2 separate regions of the Homo sapiens genome follow, and region 1 is linked to region 2. The links come from fine-mapping of genetic effects on plasma protein levels. A gene starts in region 2. The other region holds a variant in brackets. All regions are shown on one strand. Distances are between the middles of the regions.

Region 1 (2,906 bases), 26 kb before region 2:
AAACCCTGTCTCTACTAAAAAAAAATACAAAATTTAGGTGTGATGGTGCATGCCTGTAATCCCAGCTACGTGGGAGGCTGAGACAGGAGAATCACTTGAACCTGGGAGGCAAAGGTTGCAGTGAGCTGAGATCATGCTACTGCACTCCAGCTTGGGCAACAGAGTGAGACTCCGTCTCAAAAACAATGTGGAAGGAGCAGCTAGTCATCTGTCCTCAATCTCATTTCTAAAACACAGGTGTTGGATTCATAGCATCAGATTTTCATATTATATTTTGTTACCCACACTCATTAATGGTCTTGAGATGGGGTCTTGCTCTGTTGCCCAGGCTGGAGTGCAGTGGCGCAATCTTGGTTCATCGCAGCCTCCACCTCCCCGGGTTCAAGCGATTCTCTTGCCTCAGTCTCCCAAGTAGCTGGGATTACAGGTGCCCACCACCATGTCCAGCTAATTTTTGTATTTTTAGTAAAGACAGGGTTTCACCATGTTGGCCAGCCTGGTCTCAAACTCCCGACCTCAGGTGATCCACCTGCTGCAGCCTCCCAAAGTGCTGAGATTACAGTCGTGAGCCACTGCGCCCAGCCCAGTCAATGTATTTTGAATAAGTGCTTATGGAAGCTCTTTTATTTCTCAACACTGTGAAAGACTTTATCAGTTGTCACCAGACATATTTAGTAGCAGAGTGCTAAATCATAAGCTCCTTCTGCCTCAGTAGTCAATATTATTATCCTCATATAGCATTTGGCCCTGCTTCAGGTTCTATGCACTGATCCAGATGTTTATGTGAAGCAAATTACCAAAACCTTGAAAAATAATTTTCCTTCAAACATCAGTCCCTATGTGTCATTTACATCTAATTCTTGGGTATTTTCAAGGAAAAGTTCTTGGTTGGAATTTGTCAGATTTTGCATTGGGATTAAAGCTAATCAGTTTTGCACGTATGTGCTGTCTCAAGAATTGATTTCCTGGAAAGTAGTGCTCTCTTGAATTTGCTTTTTTTTGTTTGTTTTTTTGAGATGGACTCTCACTCTGTCCCCCATGCTGGAGTGCAGTGGCACGATCTTGGCTCACTGCAACCTCCGCAACCTGGGTTCAAGCAATTTTCATGTTTTAGCCTCCCGAGTAGCTGGGATTGCAGGTGCCCCCCACCACGCCCGGCCAATTTTTGTATTTTTAGTAGAGGCGGGGTTTCGCCACATTGGCCAGACTGGTCTCAAACTCCTGACCTCGGGTGGTCTGCCCACCTGAGCCTCCTAAAGTGCTGAGATTACAGGCGTGAGCTACCATGCCTGGCCTTGAATTTGCTTTTCTAGTGAAGCATTAGGGAGAAACTCTTCAAATCTATCGTAAGTGCTAACGTTTATATAATACTCTGGAATTTACAAAGTAGCTACTTACAGCATTATCTCATTTAATCCCCACATTCCAGGGGTCGTTGGAATCCCCATTTGTAGACATAGAAACTAGGAAATGAAGAAGTTAAGTGACTTGCTCAGGGACTAATGACTAATAGAGGCAGAAGCAGGACTCAAGCCTTGGTCCTCCAATTCCAAATCTTATGTCTTTTGCACTATCCCATACTGCCTGTAAGTTTTCTTCCTTTGTTTTAAAGCCATGATTTGTGGTCACCTAAAAATGCGTGGAGAGTCTGACCCTTCATAAGCAAGATCTCATCAACTTAATAATAGTTACTGGGACGTAATATCACCATGGCCACAGTACTCAATGTTGGAAAATAACCCTGTGAAATATTTGAACCATTACTCCTATGTGGTTGTTTGGGATACACTGTCTAATCTTTATTTTCAAATGAG[G/T]TAATTAGTGTATGGTGTTTGTTTCTGAATCGGGCAGCCAGCAATTAACAGGAACAGGCCCTAGCTAGAAGAGGGCTGTTTTTTCTTCTTTCAGACAGCCAGCTGTGGTACAACACATGAAATTTCCTCTTCGGACTGTCATTTCCAGCAAATGTCCTTCATTTCCTTTGCTCTGATGCCCCATCCCTCTGTTAGGGGTGGGGCGGGAGGCAAGTTATTGCATCCTAGTAGAATCCCCTGGCCAGATGGCAGTGGTTCATGCCTGTAATGCAGCACTTTGGGAGGCCAAGGCAGGAGGATCACTTGAGGCCAGGAGTTCAAGACTAGCCTGGGCAACATAGTGAGACCCTGTCTCCAAAAATTTTAAAAATTAGCTGGGCATGGTGGTATGCATCTGTAGTCCTAGCTACTCTGGAGGCTAAGGTGGGAGGATCCCTTGAGCCTAGGAGTTTGGCGCTGCAGTGAGCTATGGGTATACCACTGTACTCCAGCCTGGATGGCAGAGCAAGACCCTGTCTCTTAAAAAAAAAAAAAGAAAAGAAAAAAAAAGAGCCAGGCGCAGTGGCTCATGCCTGTAATCCCAGCACTTTGGGAGGCCGAGGCGGGCGGATCACAAGGCCAGGAGATCGAGACCATCCTGGCTAACACGGTGAAACCCCGTCTCTACTAAAAATACAAAAAAATTAGCCGGGCTTGGTGGCGGGCGCCTGTAGTCCCAGCTACTCTGGAGGCTGAGGCAGGAGAATGGCGTGAACCTGGGAGGTGGAGCTTGCAGTGAGCAGAGATCACGCCACTGCACTCCAGCCTGGGAGACAGAGCAAGACTCCGTCTCAAAAAAAAAAAAAAAAAAAAAAAAAATTGCCGGGCACAGTGGGTCATGCCTGTAATCCCAGCACTTTGGGAGGACGAAGCAGGCAGATCACCTGAGGTCAGGACTTCAAGACCAGTCTGGCCAACATGGTGAAGCCCGTCTCCACTAAAAATACAAAAATTAGCTGGGCGTGGTGGTGTATGCTTGTAGTCCCTGCTACTCGGGAGGCTGAGGCAGGAGGATCACTTGAACCTGGGAGGCAGAAGTTGCAGTGAGCCGAG
Region 2 (2,892 bases):
GAGATGTCCAATATTAGAATGGGCTACCTCATAAGGTAATGAGCCTTGTCACCCAAATGCTTTAAACAGAAGCCATCATCTGTCACATGCCAGAGGGTGCCCCTCAAGAGTGGGAGAGCAGGGGCTGAACTGCTGAGTTCCCGCTGCGTCCTGTTGCTATGCTGCCTGCACCCTTGGTGGGGAGAAGAGAAGAGGTGGACTGCTGCGGAGGACCTGGCAAACAAGGACCCAGGTCTTGAGGGGATGGGGGCTGATGGGGAAACCGTAGGGTGTGGGAATTTAAGGATTAGTGACATTAGTAACATCACTTCCTCTCAAATTGCGTTTACAGCCTTTACTCGACTGTCCCAAACATGGCCTGTTTTACAAAGCTGCTAAGAAGCACAGCTCCAAATCTGGAGCTGTGAGTGCCCGCCCTGACTCTGACTAGCTTACAGTGAAGCTTTGGGAAGTTGTTTTCCGCTGAGCTCTTATTTTCTCATCCAGAAAATGAGGGGGTAGGATTTGGTGAGTTATAAAGTGCCTTCTAGCTCTAGCAGTCTGTGACTGGCCCTGCTCTTTCTGAGCAGATCAGTGAGGCAATGACCCCAAAGCGGGGCTGCCCAGAATCACCACAGGCTTCCTTTGGCTCTCCACCTTGCCCCAACCCCTCTGGCCACTGCTGCCTGGGGGTCTTTCTCCAGCTTGCCACATTCTTGCTCAAGTGTAGTTTAGCACCATGGATGGACAGCAGATTTGAATTTGAAATCAGCCCTAACATTAACTAGCTGGGTGACTTTTAGTAACTTTCTTTCTTTGAGCCTTAGTTGCCTCATCTATAAAACCAGAGTTGGACAAATAGATCAGCTTTGCTGGGGTTGATAACTTCAGGCCCTTTCAGGAGTCAGGTCCCTGTTATTCCAGGGCTAGGGGAGCACTCCAGCTCAGAACGTTACTCTGTAGCACAGGATGCGAATCATCCACTGATACCGTGGCCATGCAACTCTGAAACAGACAGCAACCCCCAAACCCCCGGCCCTGCCACCAAGCACATCTCAGGAGACCTCCACTGGTATAATTTCCCTTGTCCCTAAGAATCTCCTTCCCCAATCCCTTTCCTTTGCAGTTAGAAAAAGGCAAGCAGGACTGAGTTTAGTGGTTTTAAAATTAGGGGTGTGGCCAGGCACAGTGTCTCATGCCTGTAATTCTAGCACTTTGGGAGGCCTAAGCAGGCGGATCACTTGAGCTTAGCAGTTCAAGACCACCATGGGCAACATGGCAAAATCCTGTCTCTACAAAAAAATACAAAAGTTAGCTGGTCATAGTGGTGTGCCTGTGGTCCCAGCTACTCAGGAGGCTAAGGGGGAGGATGGCTTGAGTCTGGGAGGCTGGGAGGTGGAGGTTGCAGTGAGCCGAGATAACACCACCACACTCCAGCCTAGGTGACAGAGCCAGACCCTCTCAAAATAATAGTAATAAATAATAATAAAGTTAGGGGTGATCAGGCCCTGAACAGGGAAATGTTCTGTCCAAGGTCACAGAGCAAAGAGAACCCAGGTGTCCACAACTCAGCCAAGAGTCTTGACCCCTGTGTCGTCAGCTGCACACACGCTGCACACTCCACCAGCTCCTAGGCTTCTCTCCACATCTGACTTATCGAGGCCTGGGCTGTGGGTAGCTTTTTGGACAGAAAGAAGCAGAAAGCAGCAGGAGCTGCTCTCCGAGGACCGCACCTCAAAGAGCAAGATCCCCCAGGTGGGATCGCTCTGAGGCTTCAGGCAGGGGAGGCTGGTTTGAAAGCCGATCTCCAAGAGGGCGTGGCTCCAAAATGCTGGCAAATAAAAGCCTGGAGAGCCAGCACCAAGCTGGAGACCAGCAGGAGGCACAGGAAAACTGCAAGCCGCTCTGTTCCTGGGCCTCGGAAGTGGTGAGCTCGCTGAGGCAGGAGGAGCTCTGGGGAGGGTCTGGGAATGTGGACGAGGGCCCTGCAGGCCAAGATGGGGCAGATGGAGGGAGGAAGATGTTTGCGCTCCAGATGGCGAAGAAAATTCCAGGGAAGGGAGAATCACTGCACAGAGGGCTGACACACAGGTCCTTTCCAGAGACAGCTGCTCACACTCACACCCATACACACACACACACACACACAAAGGCAGATACAGGGAAAAGGCAGCACCATTCAGGCACACCTCACCTGTCAGACCAGCCAGCCCTGGCTCACTCACCTGGAATGCAGTATTTAAAGAACTCGCCATCCCACCTGCACACCCACGTAGAGACATCTCCCCACTGTGTTTCAGATGCCTATGGCGTCCCCTCAAACCCTGGTCCTCTATCTGCTGGTCCTGGCAGTCACTGAAGCCTGGGGCCAGGAGGCAGTCATCCCAGGCTGCCACTTGCACCGTGAGTACCTCTGGGACCGGAGGGCTAGGAGCAGTGGAGGTTCTGGGTGGGAGCAAAGAGCTGAGTGGACGGTGGGGCAGGCAGCACCCTAAAGGGCCCCACACTGAGGCACAGGCAACGGGAGCTGGGGCGAGGCAAACCTTGGCAGAGGCGCCGTCTACTGCTTGCCTATCTCCTTCTAGCCTTCAATGTGACAGTGCGAAGTGACCGCCAAGGCACCTGCCAGGGCTCCCACGTGGCACAGGCCTGTGTGGGCCACTGTGAGTCCAGCGCCTTCCCTTCTCGGTACTCTGTGCTGGTGGCCAGTGGTTACCGACACAACATCACCTCCGTCTCTCAGTGCTGCACCATCAGTGGCCTGAAGAAGGTGAGGAGGGCCCGGGCCCGGTGGATGGACGCTGGGGTCGCGGGAAGACCAGAGAGATGGAGATCCTAGACAGCCCTGAGAAAGGGGACTGCAGCACGGACTCCCCTCTCCCGCAGGTCAAAGTACAGCTGCAGTGTGTGGGG

Direction of the effects. Positions count from the first base shown, and alleles are read on the strand shown. Strength reflects both the effect of a copy and how common the allele is.
With allele T in place of G in region 1, the plasma level of the protein whose gene starts at base 1,847 in region 2 is lower (weak association).

The links. PIP is the chance, under the fine-mapping model, that this variant and not a neighbour inherited with it causes the effect. Protein levels are from antibody-based Olink assays in UK Biobank. Linkage for the fine-mapping came from a reference panel and not from the study's own genotypes, which makes the PIPs less certain.
Region 1: its variant is fine-mapped to the plasma level of the GPHA2 protein (UK Biobank, PIP 0.93).

What each region holds. Positions count from the first base shown.
Region 1 is chr11:64,961,234-64,964,139 of GRCh38, reverse strand. The region is part of intron 1 of MAJIN (membrane anchored junction protein); the gene reads left to right. Among named protein-coding and RNA genes, the nearest start is that of MAJIN, 9.4 kb to the left of the region's middle. The variant G/T (reference allele first, on the strand shown) is at 1,815.
Region 2 is chr11:64,934,848-64,937,739 of GRCh38, reverse strand. GPHA2 (glycoprotein hormone subunit alpha 2) reads left to right here and starts at 1,847. Exons shown (of 4, transcript NM_130769.4): 1 at 1,847-1,906; 2 at 2,280-2,382; 3 at 2,565-2,749; 4 at 2,866-2,892. The coding sequence starts at 2,280.